Linked DNA regions of Homo sapiens: region 2 is linked to region 1. The links come from fine-mapping of genetic effects on gene expression. A gene starts in region 1. The other region holds a variant in brackets. All regions are shown on one strand. Distances are between the middles of the regions.

Evidence for each region. PIP is the estimated chance that this variant, and not a neighbour inherited with it, causes the effect.
Region 2: its variant is fine-mapped to the expression of LINC00632 in tibial nerve (GTEx, PIP above 0.99). The same link has a PIP of 0.9 or more in subcutaneous fat.

What each region holds. Positions count from the first base shown.
Region 1 is chrX:140,701,374-140,717,290 of GRCh38, reverse strand. It overlaps LINC00632 (long intergenic non-protein coding RNA 632), which reads right to left and starts at 7,532. Exons shown (of 5, transcript NR_173140.2): 1 at 7,486-7,532; 2 at 5,635-5,670.
Region 2 is chrX:140,765,010-140,780,926 of GRCh38, reverse strand. It overlaps LINC00632 (long intergenic non-protein coding RNA 632), which reads right to left. Exons shown (of 5, transcript NR_173140.2): 4 at 8,569-8,849. Among named protein-coding and RNA genes, the nearest start is that of LINC00632, 63 kb to the right of the region's middle. The variant T/C (reference allele first, on the strand shown) is at 8,267.

The sequences.
Region 1 (15,917 bases):
AATGCGTTGTGGCCAGGGGCGGTCGCTCACGCCTGTTATCCCAGCACTTTGGGAGCCTGAGGCAGGTGGATCACGGGGTCAGGAGATCAAGACCATCCTGGCCAACATGATGAAACCCTGTCTCTACTAAAAATACAAAAAAATTAGCCAGGCATGGACGCGCCTGTATTCCCAGCTACTCGGGAGGCTGAGGCAGGAGAATTGCTTGAACCTGGGAGGCGGAGGCTGCAGTGAGCCGAGATTGCGCCACTGCACTCCAGCCTGGGCAACAGAGTGAGACACCGTCTCAAAAAAAAAAATGTTGTGGAATGGGGGCTCTGTGTTATCATGTGATGCTGCCAATTTTAGGAGCATGTATTTAGGAACATGTTTGTGAAGAGCAGGGGTATCCACATGTTGTGAAACAAAAATATGTGTGATAGGGTGTGTTTGTATGATGTAGGGCATATCTATGAGGTTAGGATGTGTGTGTGTCTGTGTGTGTGTGTGTGTGTGTGTGTGTGTGTGTGTATGTTGTGGGCCTGTGCCTTGTGGGGTGAGGTTGGGTACAACACACAGCCTGGCTTCCAGTCTGGGTATTGTGGGATGTGTTATAGAGCAAGCCTGTGCACAAATTTGTTACTAGTGATGCAATTCTGTGTGTTGTGAGTGATATCTGGTTAGGGTTCTGGTCTGTAGGGTATGTGGGTACTATGGCGGGGTGTCTGTGTGCTGTCGAGTGTTTCTAGACGTTCTAGGGCTAATCTATATATTATATGGTGAGCCTTCTTGTTGTCAGATGATTCTAGATATCTGGGGTAGGCCTTTTTTGTTTTGGTAGTAATGATAGTGATGGTTGTAATATACATTAACAATTCTAATAGTCACTATGTACCAGGCACTGTACTAAGCACTTAACAAATCTTAACGTATTTATTACTCACAACAACTCTTTGAAGTAGGCACTACTCTTATCTTTGTTTTACAGTTGCACAAACTAAAGAACAAAGAAATATACTTACCCAAGGTGATACAATCAGCAAGGGACGGGACCTTGATTCAAACCCAGTTAGTATGGGTCTAGAGGCCTTGCTGGTAACTATTACACAAGCTGTATTTCTGTTGTTGTAGGCCAGAGTTGTAGCTCAACAGCATGGAAAAGCACGTCTGTCCACCGTGATGGAAATCTTTACATTGTAGGAGTAATATGTGTGTTGTGTGTCTAGCCGACTGGGAAATGTTTATGTGCACTGTCAGTTTTGCACTGTAGAGTAAGTCTGTGTTATGATGCAATTCTGTGCATTGTGGAAGCAATCTATGTGTTTACACGCATCACTGTGAATCATAAGGCACATCTAAGTATGGGGGATGTGATTTAGTATGTTACAGAGTAAGTCTGTGCCCTGAAGGGCTTGTCTGTACATTTAGGGTGAGTCTCAGTGCTCGGTGGTGTTTGTGTGAGTTGTGAGGCAAGTATGTATATTGATAGGTGAATCTGTGCATTTTGGTGAATTTCTGTGCATGGCTTGGCATCTCCTGTTTTGTAGGCAGCAGCTTGAGCAGTGAAAACGGTCTATGTGCTTTGGGGTAAACCTAAGAGTGACATAGCAAATAGTTTCATATATTTTGGGATACATGTTTGCATTGTATAGGCACTATAAGAAGTGTTTTTTGTTGTTGTTTTCTTGTTTGTTTCTTTCTTTCTTTCTTTTTTTTTTAGACGAAGTCTCACTCTGTTGCCCAAGGTGGAGTGCAATGGCATGATCTCGGCTCACTGCAACCTCCACCTCCTGGGTTCAAGTGATTCTCCTGCCTCAGCCTCCCGAGTAGCTGGGACTACAAGCATGTGCCACCATGCCCGGCTAATTTTTTTGTATTTTTAGTAGAGACGGGGTTTCACCATGTTGGACAGGCTGGTCCTGAACCCCTGACCTTGTGATCCGCCCGCCTCGGACTCCCAAAGTGCTGGGATTACAGGCATGAGCCACCCACCTGGCTGTGTTTTTTGTGTGTGAAGTAAATCTGTATGGCAAATGTGTGCCTGACATTTCTGAGCACTGTGGGCTTAGAGTGTTATGCTGTGGGATGTGTTTGTACGCTGTGGGTTGCATCAGTATTGTGGGATGGGTGAGGGTATCCTGGATCACATCTGTGACTGTGCCCAAAAGGGTGGGTCTGAATACCTTAAAGAAAGATTAGGTGTCTCTACAGCCTGAGTGTGTCTGTTGTAGAATAAATCTGTTGTAGAGCCAGTTTTTCCTGCTATGATGCCAAGCTGTACATTGTCAGGTATGTCTATTTATCAGAGTGTGTCTGAGGAGTTTGAGTTGTATTTTGGTGATGCAGGGACACAGCATGCATTGTGTGGTAACTCTGGGGTAAGGTCTAGATATTTTAGGGCAAATGAGTGAACTCTGGAGCAAGTAATTGTTTTTTTTTGTTTGTTTTTGTTGCTGGGTTGTTTTTTTTTTTATTTTTTTATTTTTTTTGAGGCAAAGTTTTGCCCTTGTTGCCCAGGCTGGAGTGCAGTGGCACAATCTTGGCTCACTGCAACCTCCGCCTCTTGGGTTCAAGCGATTCTCCTGCCTCAGCCTCCGGAGCAGCTGAGATTACAGGCATGCACCACCATGCCCGGCTAATTTTGTATTTTTAGTGGAGACGGGGTTTCTCCATGTTGGTGAGACTGGTCTCGAACTCCCAACGTCAGGTGATCCACCTGCCTAGGCCTCCCAAAGTGCTGGGATAACAGGCGTGAGCCACCGCGTCCGGCTGGAGCAAGTATTTGTATTGTGTGGTGAGTGTGTCTTTTGTGACATGAATTTGTGCACTGTAGGACAAGTTTGTGTGCTGTGGCACAATTGTGTGCATCAAGGAGTGATATATGTTGTAAGATGTACCGTTGCATGTCTCTGTGGTGGGGTAAACTTGTCTGAAAGCTATAGGGAGAGTCTCTGTAGTATGGGTTTAGTCTGTGCTTTGCGGGGTGACTCTACGTGCTCTGCAGAGTGTCTGTGTGGTGCTGGGCAAGTCTGTGTCCTGAGGTGATGGTCTGTGGCCTATGGTGCTTGTCTGTACACAATGGGGTGAGTCTGTCTGTTGTGGGAGAGTCTTTGTGTCATGATGCGGGTCTTCAAGCTGTCTCATGAGTCTATTCTCGGGAAAGTCTGTTTCATTGGCAAGAGTCCCTGTGCTCTAGGACGAGTCTATGGTCTGTGGTGAGAGTATGTGATGTCAGGGGTGTCTGTGTGCCCTGGGGAGAGTCTGTTTGCTGTGGGAAGAAGCTGTACACTCTAGAGAAAGTCTGTGTGCTGTGGGGTGAGTCTACTGGCCTTGAGAGTATGTGTGCTTGTCGGGGAAGCCGTGTTCTATGGGGTAAGTCTGTATGCTGTGTGTTTCCTAAAATGGGTTCGTGTGATGTGGGAACAGTGTGTGATGTTGGGATTGTCTGTGTGTCATAGTAGAGTCCTTATGGGGGGGCAAGTCTGTGTCATGCGGGGTGCATCAGTGTGCCTCAGGTGAGTCTCTGCATTAAGCAGTACATACGTGCCTCTGGGAGAGTCTAATGATACGGGGATTGGGGTGTCCATGTGTTCTGGGGAACATCTTTTTGCTGTGGTGCTTGTCGGTGTGCCTTTGGATATGTCTGTGTACTGGAAGGCAAGTGTGTGTACTGTGAGAAGAGTCTAGGTGCTGTGGGGGTAAATGTGTTTGTGTTATCTGGTCAGTGTGTGCATTAAAGGGTGAGTTTGTATACTGCGGACACAAGTCTGCTTCCAGGCAAGTCCCCCTTAGTATCTACAAATAATAATAGACAACACTTACATAATGGTTACTATGTGCCAGACACTGTTCTAAACATGCTGTTAGCATCCCCATTTTACATCTGAGGAAACGAAGAGATTTAAGTAACCCGTCCCACAGTCATGCAACTAGCAAGCAGCCGAGGTCTGAAACCAGGCAGTCTGTTTCCTGTTCTCATACTATTATGATTCCCCTCGGGGCCCTGAGGGCATCGGTGGCCTCAAACCTTAGAAAGCCTTCGTGGTCACTGGTGAGCATATAGAGAGCAGTTAATTTGGGAGGAAAGAAAAGGAGTGGCTAAAAGCCTTCCAAGCTTTATTTAAAAAAAAAAAAATGCTCCATATACAGTAACGATGGCAGTTTAGCTCAGAAAAACTGACGTCATGTCTGCCAAATAACTCCAGCCACTGCGGCCCTCAGGACCCCTCCCCTGGCCCCACAGCCGCATTCTGCTACTGCAGTGGAGCAAATGCGCATGCACTGGCGAGCTGCCATTGCCAGGGAAACCAGCCTCCTCATAAACAAAACACAGTCTAATGCGGCAAGTCAGGAAACTACTGGGACTGAGGCTGTGAGCCAAAGGAGCCCCTTGCAATAACCGCAGGCAAGGCAGCCTCCCACTCACGCGCCATCCTCCCCCCGCCCTTTTTTTTCCCCCCCAGAATCAGTAAAGCTAAGAGGCCCGGTGCAGAAGTCAATAGAGAGAGAAAGCTTCGTTGGGGGCCCGGGAGAGGGTTGGTAATAGGTAGCAAGTGATTTTAATTGTCAGATTTCTCTGGGCAATATTTAACCCATCTCCTACTAAAAAACTCCTTGCCTTATGTCTTGAGCCTTACACCTGCAGTGAAAAGAGGTGGCTCACTGGGGTGTGTCCCTATCTAGAAGAGGTAGTGGCAGTGGTGGCATGGGTTAGGACTCACCCTAGCTCCTTTAAATCCCTACATGAGACTACGGCCAGCAACAGGCTGGCAAACATTATTTACTTCTACTCCTCATACATTTCTTGTATTTCCCTCTTATATCATTCTAGAAAATTCCAAGAACTGAGTCGAGCCAACTTTAACTCTTTGAGTATCTGAAGAGTAAAAAAAAAAAAAAAAAAGAGGTTGAAGGAGGAACTTTAACCCCGGGGGTATTTTTTTTTTTAACACACAATTGGGATATCAGGTGCGCCTAAGAGGAATAGCACACCTGAAACCGTGGTTTCATATATTTGGATTCCTTAATTTTAATTTGCAACAAGAATGTGACAAACTTAACATATTTAAAATGAAAAAAAAAATCCTGTTTAAAATACTGCCCTAATCTGCATGTGCCTAGGATTTTTGAAACGCACAAGCACAAACATGGTGCTCTAGTATGCTGTCAGAAGCTGCAGGAAGGTAGGAGTACCATTGCAAAATGTAACCATCTTGGGTAAAGAGAAAATGGCCGACCTGTGGAAAGCTACACCCTATCTAATGGAAGAACAGTTGTTGCGTTGGATTATTCAATAAGTGATGCTGAAACAATCGGTGACCTATTAGGGGGAAAAAAAATTAAATCCTACTGTATACCATATATCAAAATGAATTCTAGGTGGATTAAGGAGTTAATTGTAAAAAATGAAGCAATTAAATAACTAGAAAAAAATACAGGTGAATACACTAATCAAAGGAAAGAAAAAAATCACAACACTTAAAATGGTCAGATATGGAAATCTAACATGTAAAACTGTAAAATATCAAAAAATCACCACCATAAATGGTAAAAATTAATAGGAAAACAATGGCTGGAAAATAATGTTTATACCACATATAATAAATAAATTAGGTGATAGGTGTTGGGGGGAAGAAACCTTAAATTGTTTCATACCATTTGATCCAGGAATTCCATGTCTACGAATTTTTCCTAGGGAGAAAAAACCAGAAAAGCACACAGATATTTATATGGAAAGATATTCCTTCAGTTATTTATAACAGCAAAAATAATGCACATATAAACATTCAATAATTGGACATTTAGTGGGACATCTATATGATAGAAAATTATACATCCACAAAACACCACATTCTTGTGGAATATTTTAAAATATGGGGAATTGCTCCCAATATATATTTAATGGATCAAACAGGCTAAAAATTGTATGTACATGTGATCTTCATTTTGTATAAAATATATATTTCTATGCATTTATTTGCATATATTCAGAGAAAAGAGACTGACAGTAATAAGATTAATAGTAATTATCTCTAAGTTACGGGATTATGGGTAATTTTTATAATCATCTTTACATTATTCAAAATTTACTACAATGACTATGATATTTTTATAATAAAGGGGAAAACATCATTTTTAATATTTTAGTAAGTGTATAAAAGCACTGGAAGCACAGAGAGGAAGGCGTAGAAGCAAAGACAAAATACCAATATACACCAGTGGAGGATCACGCAAAACGAGCTCATTATGTACTACAGAAAGATTATAGCATTATTTGCATGTCAGTATGTATAGAATGTCTTATACAAGATGGAGTCCTGGCAAATTTTCTTCGCTACACCAGAGAATGGTCACATGTCCCTGGATGCGTCAGTCACTCTCTTTGCCGCAGTGCTCTGTTCAACACCCCCTCCCTTTGCCTCCAGTATGTTCTCTCCCTTTCCCTCTGCAAAACATGCTACCAGCAGACATGTTCAACTTGGGAAAATGGCCCATCTTGAGGACTTTCTTTTAAGCTTTTTCATTCTTATTTTTCCTCCTTGATTGCTGCTGCTTTGTCATCTAACTCAAAAACGAAATCTATTTATCTATCATTTTTCTTTTCCTCACGTTCAAGGGCCAGTTTGAATTTCAAAGGAATAAACCACCACTTCACTTTTTTTTTTCGTTTTTCTTGCAGAAACAGAGCTACAAAAGCTCTGTTTTCAGGAATGTTTCAGAAACAAACATTAAAGCTTCGTTGATAAGAATCTCTGCTATCCATCTCACATCCCTTTTCAAAAAAAGAAGCACCGAGAACACTCTTGTCTTTACTGTATAAATCGCTGTCCAAAAATACAAATTAATTTTTTCCAATGAAAGCACGATCATAATATTCATTATTACTTTTTCATGATTTTTTCATCCTAAAGTCAAATTTTAATGTTTCTCATTGAATACACTTTCATATCTCACATGAAGCAATCAATCTGAACATTATTACAAACTGCCCTCTTCCTCATTTTCTCTCTAGTACAGACATCCCGTCACACGACTTTCTTAATTTAAAAAAATGAGGCATCGTATCCTTTTCTGCATTGCAAAGTAATATTTTTCTTATGCTCTCCCAGCACTGAGAAAATAAACCAGGTTTGAGAACATCTTGAATCATAACCCATTTCATCACGTCAAATACAAATATCGTAAAGCTGAGGTACAATTCTGAAAGCAATTCTCCAATTTAGTAACATCTTCATTAAATCTTATTTTAGGAAATATTTTACAAGAATCACAAGGGGAAAGTTTCTATATTGCCTCCTAGCAACTCCATCATTTAAGAAACAAGCTTTAAACTAGAAAAATGACCAGGGAATATTTAGAATTTAATTAATCCATTTCCCAATGCTGCTGATTAGAATCAGAGATTCCTACACAATTTTGCATTATTCTATTCCCTCAAAACATGTCGCTTGCTTTAAAAATCTTAGTCTGGATATCTATTTTACAAAATATTTCTCAGCTACTTACCAGTGGCATGCTGTCTCCCCACCAGCTCTGAGGCTGTCTGTCGCACTGAAGGAGTGGGGGCAAACAGCAGCGCAACAGCCACTTGGAAATGAGATGTACTCTGAAAAAAAGGGATTATCCCTATGGAAAGAAATGAAATGCCTTGAGATTATCCTCAAAAATTCTCCAAAAACATGAAATCATACTAAACATTATATGCTAAAATGTGCATGCTCTTCAAAGGGCAGATTTTAATAGCTAAACCTCTAATCCAAAACACACTTAAGTTGCCTTGATTTCCAGAGGAACCCCTACAAGACTATGAGCTTTTGGCTCTCCCGTCTCCTAGCAACAGTCTCATTAACTTTTTTTTTTTTCCTGCAGTGGTCCTACTAGGCATCAGAGAACATTGACAAGGTCTAGTCTCTGAGGATGAACATTACCATTTTGTTGTTCAATATGTGTTTTCTCCCAGGCAAGTAATAAGGAAAGTTAGAAATTCAAATAACAAAGTCCCCAGAAGATTTCTGATTCAAATGACATTCCACAATGAAAAGCAGAAAATTTTTTGGTTCCCTCACTTGGTACAATGCTGTCGGTAGAACCCTGTTCTAATATGAATGTGCTCAATGCTACCAAACTGTACAGTTAAAATCAAGTGGAAATTTTTTGTTACATATTTTTCCTACAATAAAAAAGAGAGAAAGAACGATTCATTCACTCCACAAATACGTGTCGTGCAACAAAATGAGGTATTCCTGTAATACCACAGTCAAAATATGGTGGTGGGGACAGGGATTATAAAAGTGAATAAAAAATAGTCCATCCTCCCTTTATAAGTTCATAAGGTAATAATATGCACAGGCTGCAAAATAGAAGTATTTTGTCGAAGTTATTCTTTTTTTCATCAGTTTTGGGTAACGTTATCATTAGAATTGTTACATAATCTGCCCCAAAATACTGGACTCCCGATGGGTGGAAGAAGTAAAGAAACACATATATAATGTTAAAATATACAAACATATATTCGTACATCTCAACTGATCATGCACACTTATCTTTACAGTGTAGCTTTTAGAAAATTTTTACTTCTATTTTCACAAATGTATTCACTTCAGAACAACTTTTCAACATTACATCATTACATAAACTGCTTTTAAAACTAATTTAATTTCTGCCAGATAGGAAATATGTGGCAATCCAGTTCAGTACCTTATAATAAAAAAAGATCAGTACCTTTATTATGTATTTATTATAGGTCAGGCACTTTTCTAAGTACCAGGTGATGAACCTGAAAAGACTAAGTAACAGAACGAGGATACCAACCTTTCTTACTTAAAGCTCAAGCTCCTCATCACATCATTGAATCACAAACATCAGAGTTCTTCTAAATCACCTGGAGTGTTAATTTTTTAAAATGAGGACTAAAGGGACCTATTCCCAAGTATTCTGTTTTGGCAGGCTAGGGACAAGCCCAGAAATCTGTATTTTTAACAAACGTCATCATTTGGTTCTGACCAGAAAACTTAAATATAATCTGTATTATTGGTAATGTTATTGGAGAAGTAAATTCTAAAACTATGACACATACATACATACACACACACACACACACACACACACACACACCACGTGTGTATATTCTGCATGGTTAGAACAAACGAGTAAATGCATTTTTTGGGGGTATTTTTGGAACCAGAGTTCTCACTATAGGAGAAAGGAGATACAAATATGAATCTGAGAAAGTGAAGAGAATCCTAAAGAAACCTTTGGTGACGGATTTGAATCGGAATTTTTAGTATGAACTCATGATTTCCTAAGACAAATCTTACTAGGTCTGTCCACAGAAAGGAGGCAATGACACTCCAGTAGCAATTAATATGACACACCAGCAGCAATGAGTACATCTAATGCCCAGGTATTAGTTTCTAAATACTGTTGTCTACTAAAAGAAACCAAGGTTTACTGGAAAAATAGCTGACGCTATACATGGGGCAGGAAAAATACAAGTGAACTTGAAGTATCTTGTATTATAAGCCAAAAAGCACTTGAAGAATGATGAGAACACATCAAAAAGACACAGGAGATGTCTTGAAAGGGCTCTCACTGGCTAACTCTGGTACAATTTGATCATCAAAAGGAATAATAATGGTCGTTGACTATAAAACATAGAATAAAAAAATCCGTGAGTCCACAGTGATAGTAAAAAAGAAAAAGTGGTAATGGAGAGGGTAACTGCTTTGTTCTAAAAGAATAACAGAAAAGAAAAGAAACTGCTTTTTTCTAAAAGGAGATATATTTGTAAGGAATGACAGAATTTGTAACTGACCATTTAGAAACCTTCAGTATAGGCCGGGCACGGTGGCTCATGCCTGTAATCCCAGCACTTTGCCTGTAATCCCAGCACTTTGGGAGGCCGACACAGGTGGATCTCCTGAGGTCAGGAGTTCGAGACCAGCCTGGCCAACATGGTGAAACTTCGTCTCTACTAAAAATACAAAAATTAGCTAGTCATGGTGGCAGGTGCCTGTAATCCCAGCTACTCGAGAGGCTGAGGCAGGAGAATTGCTTGAACTCTGGAGGCAGAGGTTGCAGTGAGCTGAGATCGCGCCACTACACTCCAGCCTGGGTGACAGAGAGGGACTCCGTCTCCGAAGAAAAAAAAAAAAGAAAAAAAGAAAAGAAAAGAAAAGAAACCATCAGTATAATAACAGGTTTAGGCAAGAATCGTCAATGCATACCAAAACCATTAGGCAAAACACCGGGGAAGAGAATATTCACAGGACTTTTAAGTATTGCCCATAGGCTACTAATTAAATATAAAAGAGAAAAATGTGCATTTTCAATGGAGTGATTTGGAATACCCCTGCCTTAACTGATTAAACTTCATGTCACCAATAATAGCACAAACTGAAATGTGCCTTTTGATGTGATGAAATGGGAAGCACACGTCATCTATTTAAGTACTAGCCAAAAATATTTTATCTGAAGAATCAATCATTAAATCCAGATTGTGGAACAATCTAGAAGACAGCTGGCCTGAACCATCAAACTATTTTTAAAAAGTGGGAGGGCAGGGAAACTATCCTAGATTAATGAAGATTAAAAAGATACAACTACCAAATGCAATGTAGCAATAGGTTAATCATTGGTAAATCTAGGTCAAGTATACACAGGTGTTCACTGTGTTATTTTTTGAGCTTTTCTGTAGGCTTGAAGTATTTTAAATGAAAAAAAAAATTAATGGCCTGGCGCGGTGGCTTATGTCTGTAATCCCAGCACTTTGGGAGGCAGAGGCAGACGGATCACCTGAGGTTAGGAGTTCAAGACCAGTCTGGCCAACATGGTAAAACTCCATCTCTACTAAAAATACAAAAATTAGGGCCAGGCACGGTGGCTTACACCGATAATTCCAGCACTTTGGGAGGCTGAGGCAGGTGCATGACCTGAGGTCAGGAGTTCGAGACCAGCCTGACTGATATGGTGACACCTCATCTCTACTAAAAAATACAAAAATTAGCTGGGTGTGGTGGTGTGCGCCTGTAGTCCCAGCTACTTGGGAGGCTGAGACAGGAGAATTGCTTGCACCCAGGAGGCGGAGGTTGCAGTGAGCCAAGATCGAGCCACTGCACTCCAGACTGGGCGACAGAGCGAGACTCTGTCTCAAAAACAAAAGAACAACAAAATTAGCTGGGCATGGTGGCAGGCACGTGCCTGCTATTGAGGAGGCTGAAGTGGGAGAATCGCCTGAACATGAGAGGCAGAGGTTGCAGTGAGCTGAGATCGTGCCACTGCACTCCAGCCTGGGCGACAGAGTGAGACCTCACCTCAAAAAAGAAAAAGAAAAAAGAAAGAAAAAGAAAAAAATTATTAAAAGGTAAATTTAGAAAATAAAGAGGAAAATACTTTCAGAAAAAGAATTATTGCACAATAATTATATTTAAAGTTAAAATTCATATACATTTTGAAATTAATGATAATCAGGTTTGTAATTCCTAAGTTAGAGAAAGAACTTTCCATACTGACCAGATGGAGGATGAACACAACTGGTCTTCCATATCCACGAGTTCTTCATCTGTGAATTCAAAATTGAAAATATTTTTTAAAAATCCATCTGCACTGGACATGTATAGACTTTTTTTCTGTGTCATTATTCCCTAAATAATACCATATAGACATACCTCATTTTGTTACACATCACTTTATTGCACTTTGTAAATCTTGCATTTTTTACAAATTTAATGTTTGTGGCAACTCTGCATCTAGCAAGGCTATTGGTGCCATTTTTCCAACATGTGCTCACTTGGTGTCTCTGTCACATTTTGGTAATTCTTGCTATATTTCAAACTTTTTCATTATCATTATATCTGTTATGATGATCTGTGATTAGTGATCTTCGATGTTACTATTGTAATTATTTGGGGGCGCCATAAACTGTGCCCATATAAAAGGGGAACTTAGGCCAGGTGCGGTGGCTCACACCTGTAATCCCAGCACTTTGGGAGGCTGAGGCAGGCGGATCATGAGGTCAGGACCCAGCACTTTGGGAGGCCAAGGCGGACAGATCATGGGGTCAGGAGTTCGAGACCAGACTGGCCAACATGGTGAAATCCCGTCTCTACTAAAATACAAAAAAAAAAAAAAAAAAAAAAAATAGTTGGGCATGGTGTTGCGTGCCTATAATCTCAGCTACTCAGAAGGCTGAGGCAGGAGAATTGCTTGAACCTGGAAGGCAGAGGTTGTAGTGAGCTGAGATCGTGCCACTGCACTCCAGCCTGGGCAACAGAGTGAGACTCCATCTCAAAAAAACAAATAAAGGGGGGAACTTAATTGATCAATGTTGTGTGTGTTCTGACTGCTCTACCACCCTGCTGTTTTCCCATCTCTCTCTCTCTCTTCTAGATTTCCTATTCCCTGAGACAAAACAATAATGAAATTAGGCCAATTAATAATCCAACAACGACCTTTAAATGTTCGAGTGAAAGAGTCCTCCCACATCTCTCACTCTAAATCTAAAGCTAAAAATGAATAAGATTAGTGAAAAGGGCATGTGAAAAGCCGAGACAGGCTGAGAGCAAAGGCTCTGGCACCAAACAGCCAAATAGTGAATACAAAGGAAACACTCTTGAAGGAAATTAAAAGTGCTACTCCAGTCAATACACGAAAGATAAGAAAGCGAAACAGCCTTATTGTTGATATAGACAAAGTTTGAGTGGTCCGGATAGATCAAACTAGCCACAATATTCCTTTAAGCCAAATCCTAATCCAGAGCAAGGCCCTAATTCTCTTCAATTCTGTGAAGGCCCTAGCCTTCGTCTCCTAAGAGGTGAGGAAGCTGTAGAAGGAAAATTTGAAGGTAGCAAAGGTTGGTTCACAAGTTTAAGGAAAGAAGCAGTCTCTATAGCATAAAAGTGCAAGGTGAAGCAGCAAGTGCTGATGGAGAAGCTGTAGCAAGTTATCCAGAAGATCTAGCTAAGATCATTGATGAAAGTAGCTACACTGAAGAACACATTTTCAGTGTAGACGTAACAACCTTCTATTAAGAGAAGATGTCATCTGGGACTTTAATAGGTAGAATAAATCAATACCTGGCTTCAAATCTTGAAATGACAGACTGGATCTCTTGTTAGGGATTAATGCAGCTGGTGACTTTAAGTTGAAGCCAATGCTCATTTACCATTCTGATAACCCTAGGGCTCTGAAGAATTATGCCACATCCACTCTGCCTGTGCTCTGTAAATGGAAAAACAAAGCCTGGATGACATCACGTCTATTTACAGCATAGTTTACTGAATATTTTAAGCCGACTATTGAAACACACTGCTCAGAAAAAATAAGATTCTTTTCAAAATATTGCTGCTCAATGACAATGCACCTATCCACCCAAGAGCTCTGATGAAGGTGTCCAAGGAGATGAATGTTGTGTTCATGCCTGCTAACACAATATCCATTTTGCAGCCCATGGATCAAGAAGTAACTTTGACTTTCAAGTCTCATAATTTAAGAAATAAATTTCATAAGTTTATAGATGCCATAGATAGTTATCCTTTGATGAATCTGAGCAAAGTCAATTGAAAACCTTCTGGAAATAAATCACCATTCTAGAAGCCATTATCAACACTTGTGATTCATGCTATTAAGAACATTTGTGGCTGGGCACGGTGGCTCACGCCTGTAATCCCAACACTTTGGGAGGCCAAGGCGGGCAGATCAATTGAGGTCAGGAGTTTGAGACCAGCCCCGCCAACATGGTGAAACCCCATCTCTATTAAAAAATACAAAAATTAGCTGGGCGTGGTGGTGCACGCCTGTAATCCCAGCTACTCGGGAGCCTGAAGCACAAGAATCGCCTGAACCTGGGAGGCGGAGGTTGCAGTGAGCCAAGATTGTGCCACTGCACTCCAGCCTGGGCGATAGAGCAAGACTCAGTCTCAAAAAAAAAAAAAAAAAAAAAAAGAGAACATTTGTGATCCATGTGATTCATGGGAGGAGAATATCAACATATTAACACGGGTTTGGAAGAACTTGATTCCAATCCTCATGAATAACTTTGAGAGGCTCAATACATCAGTAGAGGAGTTACCTGTAGACGTGGTGGAAATAACAAGAGAACTAGAATTAGAAGTAGAGCCTGAAGATGTAACTGAATTGTTGCAATCTCATGATAAATCTTGAATGGATGAGGAGTTGCTTCTTACAGATGAGTAAAGAAAGTGGTTTCTTGAGATAGTATCTTCTCCTGGAGAAGATGCTGTGAATATTATTGACATTATTACAAAGGATTTAAAATATTCCATAAACTTAGTTGATAAAGCAGCAGCATGGTTTCAGAGGATTGACTCAAATCTTGAAAGAAGTTTTTTTGGTTTGTTTGTTTGTTTTTTTCGAGATGGAATCTTGCTCTGTCACCCAGGCTGGAGTGCAGTGGCGCAATCTTGGCTCACTGAAACTTCCGCCTCCCGGATTCAAGCAATTCTCCTGCCTCAGCATCCTGAGTAGCTGGGATTACAGGCACTCACCACTGCACCCGGCTAAGTTTTGTATTTTCAGTAGAGACAGTGTTTCACCATATTGGCCAGGCTGGTCTTGAACTCCTGACCTCATGATCCGCCTACCTTGGCCTCCCGAAGTGCTGGATTATAGGCATGAGCCATGAAAAAAGTTTTGCTGTGGGTAAAATGCGATCAAATAACATCACATTGTACAAAGAAATCTCTTGTGAAAGGAGGAGCCAATAAATGTGGCAAACTTCATTGTTTTTTTTTGTTTGTTTGTTTTTGTTTTTGTTTTTGTTTTTTTTCAGAGAAAGGGTCTCCCTCTGTCACCCAGTCTGGAGTGCAGTGGCATGATCTCCACTCACTGCAACATCAACCTCCTAGGCTCAAGAGATCCACCAACCTCAGCCTCCTGAGTAGCTGGGACTACAGGCGCGTGCCACCACGCCTGGCTAATTCTTTTTGTATTTTTTGTAGAGATGGGGTTTTACCACGTTGCTCGGGCTGGTCTCAAACACCTGAACTCAAACGATCTGCCCACCTTGGCCTCCCAAAGTGCTGGAATTTTAGATGTAAGCCACTGCACCTGGCCTCGTTGTTCTTATTTTAAGATATTGCCACAGCCACATCACCCTTCAGTAACCACCACCCTGATCAGTCATCAGCAATCAACATCAGGCAAGACCCACCTTCCACCAGCAAAATGATTATGTCTCGCTAAAGGCTCAGATGATTGTTAGCATTTTTATCAATAAAGTATTTTTTAAGTTACGGTATGTACTTTTTTTTAGGCATAGTAGTATTGCACATTTAATAGACTACGGTACAGTATAAACATACCTTTTGTATGCACTGGGAAATCAAAACATTTGTGTGACTTGCTTTACTGTGATATTTGCTTTATTGCAATGGTGTGGATATTGAACTGAACCTGGGATATCAGCAAGTTATGCCTACGTAACAACCATTTACATGGCATTTACATTATCTTAGCTCTAATACGTAATCTAGAGATCCTTGAAATTATACAGGAGGAAATCCGTAGGACATAGGCAGACACTACGCCATTTTATATCAGACTTGAGCATATGCACACTTCGGAAACCGTGGGAGGTTCTGGAACCAATCCTCCACAGATACACAGGACAACTGTATTTGTCATGTGCCATCTAGTGGTAAAGTGCTAATTTACCGCGTCTGAAGGATTTCTAATAATACCGAATTTGACAAATGACCTATTAAATATTACTATAATGTTATTGTCATAAATAAAATAAAACATTTTTGTATTATTGTGTATAAATAGAGTTCAAAGGTATTTCCCTTAATTTTCAGTATTTGTTCTTGATTATAGGGGAATGCCACTGCTGAGATGTCCTGATAATCTTTTGCATCTTTCCATAGGCTATATAGGCAAGGCTCAACTGGAAGCTGACCTAAATCTTGGCGAAGTGGCCT
Region 2 (15,917 bases), 64 kb before region 1:
CCCAAGCTAAAACACTTAAAGGGTTGGGATGTGAGGCTAATACAGTTATGCAGGTAAGTGGTAGTGGGGGCTAGAATTAAGGCAGTGACGTTTCTGTCACTCAGCAGACACAGCATCAGTTATGATGAATACTTAGGATTCTGAATAACACTATTTTAAACTTCTTGAATGCCATCATAGAATACATGAAATTCAAAGAAGTTCAGAAGCCAGCTGTGAGGAATTTTCCTTGCCTAGTAAGATTACGTAGACTTACACAAATTCTCTCAAAAGGCAGCTGAGCTAATATTTTGGTGGTCAAGCAAAGCAGGCCCTATTTAGCTTTATCTTTACCCCTATATCACAGTTACCTAATTTTCTTTAAAGTGGAAACAAGTGGATGGATTATTTTCTAGAGAATAAGAACTCATCCATGTCCAAAACTGAGATTACCTCTAGTCACTACACAAATAAATGTCAGTAATGATAACCACATTATAGCATAAAGAATCACTGCAGATCAGGGAGTAACTTACAGACAAGGAAATTATTGTTTCATGTATCCCTCATCAGCAAACAAAAAGAAATACTAAAACTCATTTTTAAACTTCCTTCTCTCATCTTAAAACCATCATGCATACCTTAATTTGAGGGAAATTAAGTATCAAAGTGTGAAAATTTTGCAAAGATAGGCGCAAACTCTCATATTCTGGTTGCATAATGCTTATTCATGTTATAATAATAATAATAATCACAACAATTTATTGAGCGCTTACTATGTGCCAGGCACTGTACTAAGCATTTCATATAATCTTATAGCAATCCTATAATGCAGGTATTTTGACTGCATTTTACAGATCAGAAACTGAAGTCTGGAATGGTTAAGAAATATGCCCACAGTCACACAGCTGGTAATTGGTAGAGGCAGGATTTGAAAGCAGATCCGTGTGATTACAAAACCTTGCCTCCGTGCTGATTCTCCACAACCCAATAACCCAGGGGTTGTACTGCCAGGACTAAGCACCACTCACCCAAAAAGAGGGTGCCCCCAGCCCAGAGCAGACAAGAAGTCAGTGGCAAAGATCTCACTTTAAGTCCCATTTTCTTATCATTGTGACACTCACCATACCACTGCCAAGTAGTCAAGAACCAATTCTAGGTGTTTGCAAAGATGAGTTAATTATATCTTTGGCTTTACGTAGCAATGCAAGAAAGATGAAATGCAGTGTCTCAAACACAATAGATTCATACTTAATTTCTCAATATTTGTTATTTATGCTAATGATACTAATTCTTTCATCTATTTTCTATTTGATTTTATACTTCCCAGTAATATATACACTCTGTTCATAGTACATCATATTTCTGAATTCTTAAGCAACCATAACACACTGACATCAAAGGCCATTAAAAGGTAATAATACTATGTAAAGTTCAGTAATCAATGCATTTCACATCATAAACCTTGTTCACGCAAGCTTTTAGACTATATATACTGTCAAAACCCTTTATTAGCATTCGGGTGGTAGAAGCTATGTAATCCAAATGTGTAATTTAAAGAGCTTTCTCTGCATTTTGAACTTAAAAGATTTTAAACAAAAAGTTCTTTTTAAATGTAATACAAGTTTCCTAACATATTCTTCACATCTCATCAGCCTGGGCTGCCCTTTCTCCCCACCCCTCCTTTTTTTTCTTTTTGCCACAGTGGTTAAACATGTCTATAAAGAACGAAATTTCCATGCACTTTGTAATACTGAGCTCAAGAATTTACCCAAGCCATTTGACAACAGGTTCTCTCCACTCAAACTGTGCATAAAACATACTAAAAGAAACCTCAGCTTTGATATTTGGGGGGCTTTTCTTAAAGAAGAAAAAAACACCCATTTACATGGCAGTGTTGTCATTAACTTCTATTTCTACCTTTAGCGTATATCAAACTTTCTCATCCTCCTACAAGTTTTGCTGACCTGTTCAACTCAACCACAGTAAAATGTTCTTTGACTCTCATCAGTGATACTTCTTAGGTTGTTTTAACTGGATATTGTCTTAAACAATAATTAGATTTATCTCAATATTTTATTTCAAATGACCTGGGCCCTAGATAAATGTTTCCATACATCAAGCCAAAGTCAAAGTATTTCTATGACAACTAAGATCATATAATAGTCAATTTCTCATTTTATTATTTATATTAAGAGTTCCTAGTTGATGCAATTCAATTTAACCTTTTATTTCTCTAATTCTGGTCAAAATAAATAAAAAAATGGCCAAGGTAGTAATCTCAGTAAATGGTAAAATTATCAAAACAGTTCTTTTTTTTTTTTTTTTTCTTTGTTTGTTTGTTTAGACAGAGTCTCATCCTGTTGCCAGGCTGGAGTGCAGTGGTGCGATCTTGGCTCACTGCAACCTCCGCCTCCCAGGTTTAAGTGATTCTCCTGCCTCAGACTTACCAGTAGCTGGAGTTACAGGCATGCACCACCACGCCCAGCTAATTTTTATATTTTTAGTAGAGATGGGGTTTCACCATGTTGGCCAGGATGGTCTCGATCTCTTGACCTCGTGATCTGCCCGCCTCGGCCTCCCAAAGTGCTGGGATTACAGGCGTGAGCCACCACGCCCAGCCAAAACAGCTCATTCTTTAAAGTCATATAGAACCACTGATTATACTGAGGAAAAGATCATTGATTTAAAAATATTTACCTGTAGATGTGACTAAGAAGAAGCAAATGACCTATGAAAACTTAAAGCATTCACCATACAGGGTTCTCTGTTTTGGTTTATGGAAACAATAGATACAAAATATTAGCATTTTACACACAATATCTGTGCATTATTTTTCCCAAAACCTATAACCCAGAGGGGAAATAAAAACAATTATCATAGAAAAAGAAACTCCCAGTAGGTACTGCCTCTCTTTCCTTTCAGAGAGTTGGTGTTTATATTTGCCTTGTTTCTATGGCATTATGCCCTACTTCCTTTTCTGGGAGGGACTAAAACATGGTAAAACTTGAACCATGAGCACAATTACACAATGCAATAATAATCCTATTTACTTTGGTCTCTATGAAAAAGTTTAGATATTCTCAAAATCAACCATTGTGGTTGATGCACCTTTCTCTCAAGGTAATGTCAGAGATAGAAAGACTTTAGACACCAAGTGGTCTTATTCTCTCATTTGAAAGACAAAGGCAGGAGTGACTTGAATAAGACCATTCATTGAACTAGTGGCAGAACAAACACTTTGAATCAAGGTTTCCTAGTTCCTGGGCCCACTACCATTTATATTTTCTATCATAATTTTCCCTAGCTTTAGAGCGGCAGTTTGAAAACCATGGCTATATAAAGAAACGCTGAAGGAAATTTTGAAATATACAGATTCTGGCCCTATCCCTGATTCAGCAGGTCTTTGTGCAGTTCCTGGAAATCTATATTTTTCAACGCTTTCTATCATTACTCTGATACACAGTCAGTGTTGAGAACAACTGTGGTTTAGATCAAGAGCGTAAGCTCTCCTGGAACTGTGGCGAATCCTAGATCCACAGCATCCTACAATGGGTTTTCAACCCTCATCTTCCTCATTTGAGCGTGTTGAAGAATATCTGTAGTCTCAACCATAACCATGCAAGCAAGCCCTTTTTAAAATTATTATTAAGTTCCAAGATACATGTGCAGAACGTGCAGGTTTGTTACATAGGTATACATGTGCCATGGTGGTTCGCTGCACCCATCAACCCTTCATCTAGGTTTTAAGCCCCGTATGCATTAGGTATTTGTCCTAATGCTCTCCCTCCCCTTGCCCCCCACCCCCCAACAGGCCCCTGTGTGTGTTGTTCCCCTCCCAGTGTCCATGTGTCCTCATTGTTCAACTCCCACTTATGAGTAAGAACATGTGGTGTTTGGTTCTCTGTTCCTGTGTTAGTTTGCTGAGAATGATGGCTTCCAGCTTCATCCATGTACCCACAAAGGGCATGATCTCAATTCATTTTTATGGCTGCAGTATATTCCATGTTGTATATGTGCCACATTTTCTTTATCCAGTCTATCATTGATGGGCATTCGGGTTGGTTCCAAGTCTTTGCTATTGTAAATAGTGCTGCAACAAACATATGTGTGCATGTCTTTATAATAGAATAATCTATAATCTTTTGGGTATATACCTAGTAATGGGATTGCTGGGTCAAATGGTATTTCTGGTTCTAGATCCTTGAGGAATCGCCACACTGTCTTCCACAGTGGTTAAACTAATTTACACTCCCACCGACAGTGTAAAAACGTTCCTATTCTCCACATCCTCTCCGGCATCTATCCTTTCCTGACTTTTTAATAATCGCCATCCTGACTGGCCTAACGCGCGGCGGATGCGGACAGGCCAGCGCGCGACACCCCCGGAGTGGGTGGTCACGCGCGGGCTTGGGTAACGAGGACCCCGGCGGGTGGCGGGAGGAAGGAAGGAAGAGGGACAGCGCCGGACGCGCGGGTCCAACGGCCCCCTGAGCACGCAGGCAGACAAACCCTTGTGTGGAGGGCTCACTTTCAATAGATGGCAACGAGGAATCTGCTCTGCTACTCACGAAACCCTGACCCAGAAACAGGTTGCCTAGGAATGGTTTAGCGCCAGGTTCTTCACGAACGTGTTATGCATGATGGGCGAGGGGGTGGCTGCCTTTCTGGCCGAGGCCAATTTTCCAGGATGAGGGGCTCTCCGCACCGGATCCCAGTCTGGCTCTCATTGTGGTTTTGATTGGCATTTCTCTAATGATCAGTGATGATGAGCTTTTTTTCATGTTTGTTGGCTGCGTAAGTGTCTTCTTTTGAGAAGTGTCTGTTCATATCATTTGCCCACTTTTTGATGGGGTTGTTTTTTCTTGTAAATTTGTTGAAGTTCCTTGCAGATTCTGGATATTAGACCTTTGTCAGATGGGTAGATTGCAAAATTTTTCTCCCATTCTTTTGGTTGCCTGTTCATTCTGATGCTAGTTTCATTTGCTGTGCAGAAGCCCTTTTAAACTTTTTTTTTTCCTTTTCCTTCAAAATATCAAACTCACATATAGTTCACAGATTGAGGAGAAAGTTACTGGACTCCCTCATGCCAAATTTCAACGTTTGAGTGGGCTTGCTTCCTGCTTCCTACAAAACCAAATTCAATTTACTCTCTGATGTCAGTTTTTGACACAGCTGTTTAAAGCATTTTTTTTTCATTACTGTACATACATTTCCTCATTCCAGGTTGTCTTTATGCTTTCTCAAGTTATATAAAGTCTCTTTTTGGCAAGCACATGCCAATGAATTATCTTTCTTCTTTTCTCTATTCAGGTTTTCTGTGCATCATTATCAGATATAATGATGAGGCCAGTGCTGTGAATCCGGCACAAACAGCAATTAAGACAGAAACAACAGCGATGTTATTTGGACTTCCTCTCTATTCCCCAGAATAACTGTCCAACTGAGTTCAAAATGGACATCAGTTGGGAATGTGTAAAGCAGCCAAAAGAACAGGCAGGTTCAGCCTATGCCTTTGCCCAAAATTCTTAGAACAAGATAACAGCGTCGTATCTCTGGCTTTGTGGTTTTTTTTCCTCTGTTAAATCTGCCTGGAAAATTCCAAACATCCAAAATTAAAACAACCATGACAATAACTTTTGTAACACAATTGAATCAAATGAAGTAAATATATGGAATTATGAAAGGAATTTAAAAACAATCTGAGAATGAAGTCTCCATCACCATCAGAGAACAGGAGGTAATAATATCCATTTTTTGGAGGATATTCAATTCTTCAAATCACTGAGGAGGCCAGATATGAGAACAGAAAGAATCTATGAAAATGAACTCTAGCAGCTGTTCCTCCTTGATTAGCTACCAAAGGAAATCTGGAAATTTAACATAAATATACTGCTTTTCAGGATCAGCCAATAGCTAACATATACAATTGCTGGAAAAGAAATTAATTTAACTTATACCAAACTAATCCTTTCTGGTGAGATCGCAAGTTAGGCTTAATCAGAATTAAAACAAATTTCAGGAGTACAAAATCAAATTATCCAGCCAAGTACAGTAGCAGCCCACTCCTTAAATGCTATAGTTGAGTTCCCGAAACTCTCAGAGTACCCATGTTGGAGGAATTTAAGACTTTTTAGGAAAAAATGAGGCAAGGACATGAGTATTATGAAAGCCTAGACAATCAGTTTGTTCACCAAACTAAAACAATAAAATAAATATCATTGATATTTTATATTAACAAGAGTGGATATCAGGCAATTAACTTCCTTTGTGATCTCAAGATGAAGATGATAATGGATCAATGAAAATGCTTGGTCGTAACAATAGTAACAGGGAAAGAATAGAGAAAATTGCATTTCGTCTGAAGAGATGTAAGCTCAGTCTTCTGCTCCTCTTTCATCCCCAGCACACAAATCACCATATCATCAGAGCCATCAGAGTCTGAATCCCAAGGTTTAACTATCTGTGTGCGGCGTTTCTACTTCCTGTTTTCCTGTTTGCAGAACGGGTTTGAATGACATGGCCTAATGTCAACCTCTTCTCCCCTGTCAAGTAAGCAGAGAGAAAATACTTATCGGTGTTTGTTTGGAAGTTTATTACTACTGCTTTATAGGATTGTAAGTAATCATCTAAGCCTTACCTGAAAGTCAATATGTAGCCCACCAAAGGATCTCTTTCTTTTGAATCATTGTGACAATTTCATTTGTGGAGTAGATACTTGAACATTCTTAGAGTTCTGGATGTTAACCTATGCTGGCTTCTTCTATTGCCTTTTGATGTGATCACATCTCCAAAATATTTCTCAACTATCTTTTGAAGGTGAGAGTCTAACAATTCAGTAATGTCACTTAACTCAATGTCTTCAAGGCCTTCACTATTCAAATGGTTTGCAGATGTTACAATATTTTCAATTTCTTCTACCACTGGAAGGAAACCTTCCAAATCAGTCACAACCTCATTCCAAAATTTCTGCCAGACTTCATTAAGTATTGATTGTTTTATTTGTCTCACTGATTCTTCTACACCTGTTAAAGCATTACAAACGGAGAAATGTTGCCAAGCCACTTTCATGGTAAAGTTCTGGTGTCTCTGATAAGATCTTCAGGTAGTCAAAATACATGCAGAGCACAGTACATCGCTAGCACTCTCAGATGCAAGAGTTGAAGGAGTGGAGTCGTACTGGGGGTAATGGAGATGACTTGAACACAAGGAGCAGCATTTATGACTGCATTTTTGTCTGTAGGAGCAGTGTCCAGAATCACAACACTGTGAAGTCAAGATTTTTTTTTCATTTAAATGTTATTTAACCTCAGAACAAAACACTTCAAAGACCAGTTCAAAAAGAGTTTCTCAGTGATCCATATTTCATGGTTTCCCTTCATGTACACAGAAAAGTGTTTCTGGCTTTCTCTTTAAAGAAGGTAACAATTTTGGAATCTGTAAAGCAACATGGGTTTAATCAGAACACACTGGAACAAAGCAGAACTTTGAGTTTGTCTTTTCCAGGCTTGAAGCCTCTGGTCCTTTTCTCATGCTTTGCAATAGATGTGCAAGTAGGCATTTGCTTCCAGAGTTTCAGCAGCACTGACAACCTGCTCAGGCAAATTGCCATTGTCCTCAATCGTCTTCTTCAGGTATTCAGGATACTCTCCGGCAGCTCCTTAATCTGCTTCCTCTGACAGTCACTTCTCCACTTCTTTTCATTACAGGCCACAGCTTCTCTTCTCTTCTCTTCTCTTCTTTCTTCTCTTCTCTTTTCTCTTCTCTTCTTTTCTTTTTTTGAGACAGAGCTTTGCTCTCGTCACCCAGGCTGGAGTGCGATGGCACGATCTCAGCTCACTGCAACCTCTGCCTCCTAGGTTCAAGCGATTCTCCTGCCTCAGCCTCCTGAGTAGCTGAGATTACAGGTACCCGCCACCAATCCTGGCTAATTTTTGTATTTTTAGTAGAGACAAGGTTTCACCATGTTGGCCAGGCTAGTTGCAAACTCCAGACCTCAAGTGATCCACCCACCTGGCATTTCTTAAACCTACCCAACCACCCATTACTTGCAATGAATTTTATAACTTTCCATCCAGATTGAAATTTAAATTTGCATTTTTGTGATGCTCACTGGCAGATTTTACACACAGAAAGAGACCTATTCAACCTTCTCTGTTTTAGAAGCCACAAGTGCAAATCTCTTTATATTTTCCCTATTGTGGCATTTTGAGTTGTGTATGATTTTCTCAGTGATTCTTGTGTGCCCCCGATTCACTGGCCCCAACTGCTTTCTCAATTTTCTTTA[T/C]TGTATGATGTGTAGGTTCATTAACACCAAAAATATGCCCTAGGAAGTGTTGCTTTCACCATTATCAAGCATTTAAAGAACTTTCATTGTGTTCGCTATTAACATAAACTTTCTTGCCCTCTTTACTCTTCTTGCATCTCTATCATCCCTCTCCTTGTTCTTTTGCTTGCATGCCATTCTCACCCCTAACTCACGCATATTTACAATGACTGCAAGTTGTATATCAATGAGAGTACACAATATTAATTTGTAATACTTAAGAACCAAATGATAAAATTCACAAGACAAATAAAAAGGCTAACCAGTTTTTGTATGACAACACGTGTGTGATCAATGGCTGCAGAGGCAACAATAACAAGCAGAAGAACAAGAGTAGAAACAAGTGTAACCCAAATGTTGGTCTTCTCACAGGAGGTAGCAAGAAACAGGATGGTGACTTGAACTTGCATATCGTTCCAAAGCTCTCAAAGGCGCGGACTTAGGGAAACTCAAATTTTGTATGATGGTGACTTGCAGTTGTGAAGCGATCGTGGAACTCAGGAGTCAAGGTCAGGCTATCACGCTGAGGTGAGAAGCACACCATCTAGGAAAAAGCAAACATAAAAATAGGAAATGAGGTCAGGAACAGAGGCAATCTAAATGAGTAGCTTATAAATTTGGAGTAATAAAAATATATGCCAGGGCCGGGCATGGTGGCTCACGCCTGTAATCCCGGCACTTTGGGTGGCTGAGGCAGGGGGATCACGAGGTCAGGAGTTTGAGACCAGCCTGGCCAATGTGGCGAAACCCCGTCTCTACTAAAAATGCAAAAAAATTAGCTGGGCATGGTGGCACATGCCTATAATCCCAGCTACTTGGGAGGCTGAGGCAGGAGAATCACTTGAACCCAGGGGGCAGAGGTTGCAGTGAGCCGAGATCACACCACTGCACTCCAGCCTGGGTGACAGAGTAAGATTCCGTCTCAAAAAAAAAAAATATATATATATATATATATACACACACACACATATATGTATGTGTGTGTGTGTGTGTGTGTGTGTGTGTGTGTATATATGCCAAATTGCCCTTGCAAAGGTTGTACCAATTTGTATGCTAAAAGCAAATGACAGTTCTTTCCTCTCATGTACTTACCAACATGACACATAATCAACATTTGTGACTTGTATCAATTAGAAGGTAAATCACAAGGTATCTAATTTTTGTTTTAATTGATTTCTTTCATCACCTTTCCTCTTTAAATACTTGTTCTTATCCTTTTTCCACGTTATATTTTTTTCTTACTGATTTATAGGTACTGTTAACATTTTAGAGAACTTATTTTTAATCCTCTCTATATTGCAAATATTTTTTCCGAGCATGTCATTTACTTTCGAATTTTATTGCTTTTGTCTTTTGCCATAAAGTTGCTTCAAGTATTTATGTAGTCAACTGTTTCTGCCTTGCTTTGAAAAGTCTTTCCCCCAATAAGATAATACAAATATGTTCACTTATTCATTTTTAATATTTTTACAGTTGTCTGGTAGTATTTCCGAACATTAAGGAAAGGATGGACTACTCAAAAAATGGTGTTGGAATAAACATCTGACTATCCATCCACAAGTGTCTGGAGTTCTCTCCCAGTAGTCTTTTTTCTCTCTAGAGCCTGAGAGTTTCTGGTAGTGCCATAACTCCTGGGTAACCAGGTTGAGTCCTCAAGCTGATCTTAGTTGATCCCGCAGTTTCTTTGGGTTAGTGTAGCTTTGAGAGGAAAATGTTTTCAAATAAATAATTACTATCTATTTTGTTGTCTTAAGTTTTGTTCGTCTACCAATCCATACTACGACTCATATCAAGTGAACAACAGTACCAAGTTCTCGGATCTCAGATCTTCTGATAACGCTTCACTAATAATTAATAAATAAATAGTCACTCATAGTTTTGGAAGAACTGAGGGAATCGGAGCATGAGTAGGCTGTTAGATGACATTCGGCCACTGCTGTTGATTCTATTGGGTGCAGTAATGGAACTGTGGTAACATAAATAAATATATGTTTTGTCGAGGGAGGAACTGAAGCAAATAGATATACAATGTTATCAGTAATTTATTTTATGGAAAAATGTTAACAATTTTTATGTTGTTGTTTTGAGATGGAGTCTCACTCTGTCGCCCAGGCTGGAGTGCAGTGGCGTGATCTTGGCTCACTGCAACTGCCTCAGCCTCCGAAGTAGCTGTGATTATAGGCGTGAGCCACCACACCTGGCTAAATAGTTACCAATTTTTAAATCCAGGTGCTTGGTGGGCATTATAATTAGCATACAATGAGCAGTGAGGACGACCAGAGGTCACTTTCATCGCCATATTGGTTTTGGTGAGTTCTGGCCGGCTTCTTTACCACATGCTGTTTTATCAGCAAGGTCTTTGTGACCTGTATCTTGTGCTGACCTCCTATCTCATCCTGTGATTAAGAATGCCTTAACCTCCTGGGAATGCAGCCCAGTAGGTCTCAGCCTTATTTTACCCAGCCCCTACTCAAGATGGAGTCACTCTGGTTCAAACGCCTCTGATGCCACCTCTTCCAGGAAGCTTTCCCTGATCCCTCCTGCTGGCTTTGAATTGATGATGGAAACTCTCAGAGCCTTCCTCCAATGCCTACTCTGATTACAGCACTTAGGATATTTCACTATAGTGCCATCTGTTTCCCTGTGTTTTAATCATTTGGGAATGCCTTGACGGTAACTGGAATAGAATAGGTCCTCATTTTATAGCATAAATGTTTATAGTACAGAAAGTAAGACCAGCATGCAATGCTCTCAAAAGGAGTAGCATTTGAATGGGACCTTGAAGAATGGGTAGAATTTTTAGGGTGTGGAGGAGAAGGCAAGCAGGTGGAAGGGACAAAGGCGGAGGCACGAAATTGCTGGGTACGCGTGGAATTAGATGAGGGATGAAGCTGAAACAAAGGACGGCTGAAGTGGGCAGTAAAAATAAAACTGTAAAAGATTTGTTGAGGCAAATCATAAAGGGCTTCAGATGCCAGATTTCTTAGATGAGGTGGAGTTGTTTAGCTGTCTTGATATTAACGAAAGGGTTTATGTTTGCAGTGAATAAAACAGCAGATATTTAGGATTAATCTGACCTATTCTTCCTTGTTACTAGGTTTTGGCATACAAAATGTATGGAAAATTTGCTTTCATGGGGGGGGTGGGGTGGAGAAAAAACCGAATTTTATTAGATGCTATGGAAATCAAATGGGATTTTAGAATTGCCACTTGCAAATAGAAGACAGAATCTAAGACTGAAATGGAAGACAGCTGTAAAACAACAGGACTGGTCTAGAAAGATGTAAAAGCTGAAGCAAATGTAGATGAAGGAGCAATTGGGGCCTATGAGGCCCTCCATGATCTGGCCCCAGACTGTTAAAATAGTTTCCTGACTAACTTTGCCATAACCAAGTCCACCCTCATAGCCACCAGCTTTTTATTCCCCAAACAGTACCTCTGCTGTGTTGTGCTTACTCAATAAGCCTTCTGAACTGACCATCGGTGACCTTGTCCTAATTCTTGCTTCCTGCATTTGTGGGCACTACAAGGCACCTTCCCCAAGAAAGGTTCTCTGGAAAGACTAGTTTACTTATTGGCTCCTGACCAAAATCACATTTGTACCTCTCCTCACACCATTCCTTCTAGTTGGAATGCTCCCTCTTTCCTTTCTATCTATGGAATCTCATCATCCAACTCAAGTCCCATTCATTCCATTATATGACCATCAGAAAGACATGAAGCCTTAGAGGCAGTAACTAGGTCCTATACTAATATGTATTTGTGTATGTATATTAGTACAAATATATATATAATATATACAAATATATATACTTATACACTAATCTATACATATACAAATATATATAATATATTTTATTATATATGATAAATATGTTATATATTTAATTATATATTTAATTAAATATATATTTATTATATAATAAATATATTATATAGTATGTATATTTATTATAGATTTATTATATATAATAAATATATTATATAGTATATATATTTATTATGTGATAAATATATATTTATATATAATAAATATATAATATAGTATATATAATAAATATATAATATAGTATATATATTATATGTGTTATATATATTACATCATTGATTAATTCAGAGGCCCAGAGAGAGGAAGCAGCAGTGCTCTTTCACAGCTTCTAAGATTACTATTGCACTTCTATTGTATAGGTACAGAATGGATGTGTTAACACTAACCCTTTTGTTACAGTCAAATCTTCTTAACATTTCATTTCCTCCTTGGTCCTGAGGTCTTCGATCTACCCTTGAATGAAGCATTATCAAAGGAGAAAGGGAGTAAGGTCAAGGAAATGGAACTAATATGTTTTGATGTGAGCACTCAGTATGTGGCAAACCCTTTACAACCTGATCATATTTTGGCCTTACAACATCCTTGTATTTGAAAAAGCAGAAGCTCAAAGATGACATGTGGCATGTCCAAAGTCACACAGCTAGCGTCCAAGCTCCAGACTCCAATATCCATGTTTTTTACACTAAACTAAGCTGTTTTCCCTTAAAATGAGTAGCTGTCATTCACATTCTGGAGCATGTGAAAATTCTGTCATGGAGCTGCGTTATGGTTTGAATGTCTGTCTCCTCCAAAACTCATGTTGAAACGTAATTGCCACTGTAACAGTATTAAGAGGTGAGATCTTTAAGAGGTGGTTAGGCTCCACCGTCATGAATAGATTAATGCCATTCATGGGAATGGCATTTCATGGGAATGGATTCCTTACAAAAGGGCAAGTTTGGCCTCTCTCTCCTTTGCCATGGGATGACACAGCAAGAAAGCCCTTGCCAATTGTCAGTCCCTCAGTCTTGGCCTTCTCATCCTCCATAACCACATGAACAAATTTCTCTAATAAATCCCCTCTCCTCTATCTATCTATCTAGCTAGCTATCCCATTGGTTCTGTCTCACTGGAGAACTCTGACTAATACAAACTAGTTTATAGCTTGTCTAAAAACTTCAGAGAAAAGATGTCTTCAAAATATTCTACTCTGAGTAAGAGACAAAGAGTGCTTCATGAAATTATTCAAGAATTCTCTTGCATAGCCAATGTTTAAGAGGCGTAAGTTACTAAATGTGCATAGAACCACTTCTTTAAAATTAAATAAGCAATATTATATGCAAATGAATCTAAGCAGCTCTAGAGCTAAACAATAAACTAAGGGGAAATTAATGCATCATGTTCAAATATTATTAACAAAAATGGAAAAAAATAATAGGTAAATAACACTAATAAAGTGAATTTTTCTGGGCCAGGCACTGTTCTAGCTGCTTTACATATATTAACTCACTTAATATTTAATACAACCCTATGTGTTAGGCATTATTATTATTATTTTATAGATGAGGAAATTGAAGCTCAGACAAGTTACATAATCTGTCTGAGGTCACACATTTATTAAGCAGGAAAGCCCAAAATGTACAGCTATGCAATCTTGCTCTAGATGACACACTCATCCATTACAATGCACTTGAAACTAATGATGTTAAGATTTTTTCTTGCAATTCTTAACTGCTCAAAATCATCCTAACACAAGAAACTTCTGGTTAAATAAAAAAGAAGGCCTCCACCTTTAGAAAAGATGTATGATAATACCTGTAGCATAACAATGAGCAAAAACCATCTTAAAATAAAACACCCAGAGTAGCTCATAGGTTCTAACACAAAATGTGAGTCTAAGTTTCTACAATATGAATTTTCTTTTTGTTCCACATATTCCTATCAAAACGGTAAGAAATAAATTAGTATCGATACAACTCTTCCATTAAATTTCTACAAATATTACCTAAACATAACGAACAGATTTCAATTCTAATCCTACTCAGAATCATACACATTCTTTCTTTGTTATTTCATTTATGATAATTAATTATACATCTTTTACATTGTTAATTTTTAAATTCCCACTGCACGTAGAAGCATATTTTACTGGAGACTTCTATGTAGAAAACTGAATTGTACATTATAAGATCACATGACCATGCATATCCCAGTTTTCATTCTTCCAAATGAGTAATATAAATTCACAAATCAACTTTCTTCATTTGAAAATTTAAGTATCATCCCTATGAGCAAAAGCCCTAACTACTTATGTTCGAAACAATTGAGGGATATGATGCTGATATTTATTATCACATTTATTTTTTGTTCTTGCTATTTTAATCTTTGATTGTTATGGAACATCTTCACTCTCTTTCTATGGTTCAATGGGTTAACAACCAAATAGACATCCATCAGTTTTTAATAATAATCTATTTTTCACATTAAAATTTCATGGAAAATCGTTCATACTTCTTACTGGATGGAAGTTTTTTAAATAGCTCTGAAAATTCACCACCAAAAACAGTCAAAAAAGATTCTATGTAGCAACAGTGCCCTCTGCTGGCTACAGCGTGGAACAGCTAAACCAGGCCTATAAGAAATCCAACAGCTAAGGGGATCTGCCGTGACCCCCGTTTGGCGATGCCGACAATGACCGTTCTGCCCACCTTTTCCCCATTCCAGGTTAAGTAGAATTTGGCTTGATACCTCCTCAAGGGAAGCAAACTCTGTTTAGCAGGCCAGGGATCACATGTGCCCTTTTCTTCCTTTTGAAGAGCTGGTCAAGCCCAAAACCTCAAAAGATTTTAAGAAAAGGCACACGGATTTGAACAATCGTTTCCTGATCTTCTCCAGATCTTTTACAGATCTTCCTCTTACCTCATTTTTCACTGGCCCGCATAAGACAAAAAGAAGCATTTATAAATAAAACCAGTCCATCCCCTACTCCGGAGCTACTTGCCCCCCTTGTCGCCTCCCTTAACGGTAATAGCAGCAAACAATTCAAGATCAGCATTAAATGGCTCTAGGGGTAAGAATTGAAAACCCCTTTTAGCCAGCACCTAACAGTGTCTAGTCACTTACTAGGAGAGGTAAATGGTGCTTCCTAAGTTATTGAGTGTGATCCTCATTAAAGGTGCTTGTATCATTGCAACTTCAGACTGAACTGCCATACCACCAAATACACATGGGAAGCTAGAGAGGAACAAGGAATCTCTAAGCATAGAGGCGTCCCTCTTCTAGAAAAACAATTCCAAAAGCCGTTCCCTGCTATTTGTAGTTACTTTAAAGATTTTATACTCAATTCAATTATTGAAGGGGTTCCTAAATACTAATTAAGGGAGTGCAGTTTCCCCTCGAACTTTGCTTCTGTGGGGATCGGGCGGTTCCAATGCAAAGCTTTGCAACTTGGGGCGGCTGCATAAGCTCTCAGCTTTGGGCTACTCCAAAATCCACGTTGACCCCAGGGCCTCGGTGAACAAAGCACTGGGCTGCGCTACTTGAGGCTCAGTCCCTGCCCCTTCCCACACAACCAGGAAGGCGTATACACAACGAAAACCGGAGGTCTACTACGTGGCACCACGGAGAGGAGGGAATCACTTCAGAGTTGATTAGCTGCGTCGGGGATTCGGGTGAGGCAAGTGAGGCTAAGTCGTTCAAGTGCAAGGTCTGAGCTTGCCCTTATTTAATATTTCTTATCTAGCTTCTTGCGGAATTTTGGCTATAACTTTGAATTTTAAAGAGACTGCATGAACAGTTTTATCT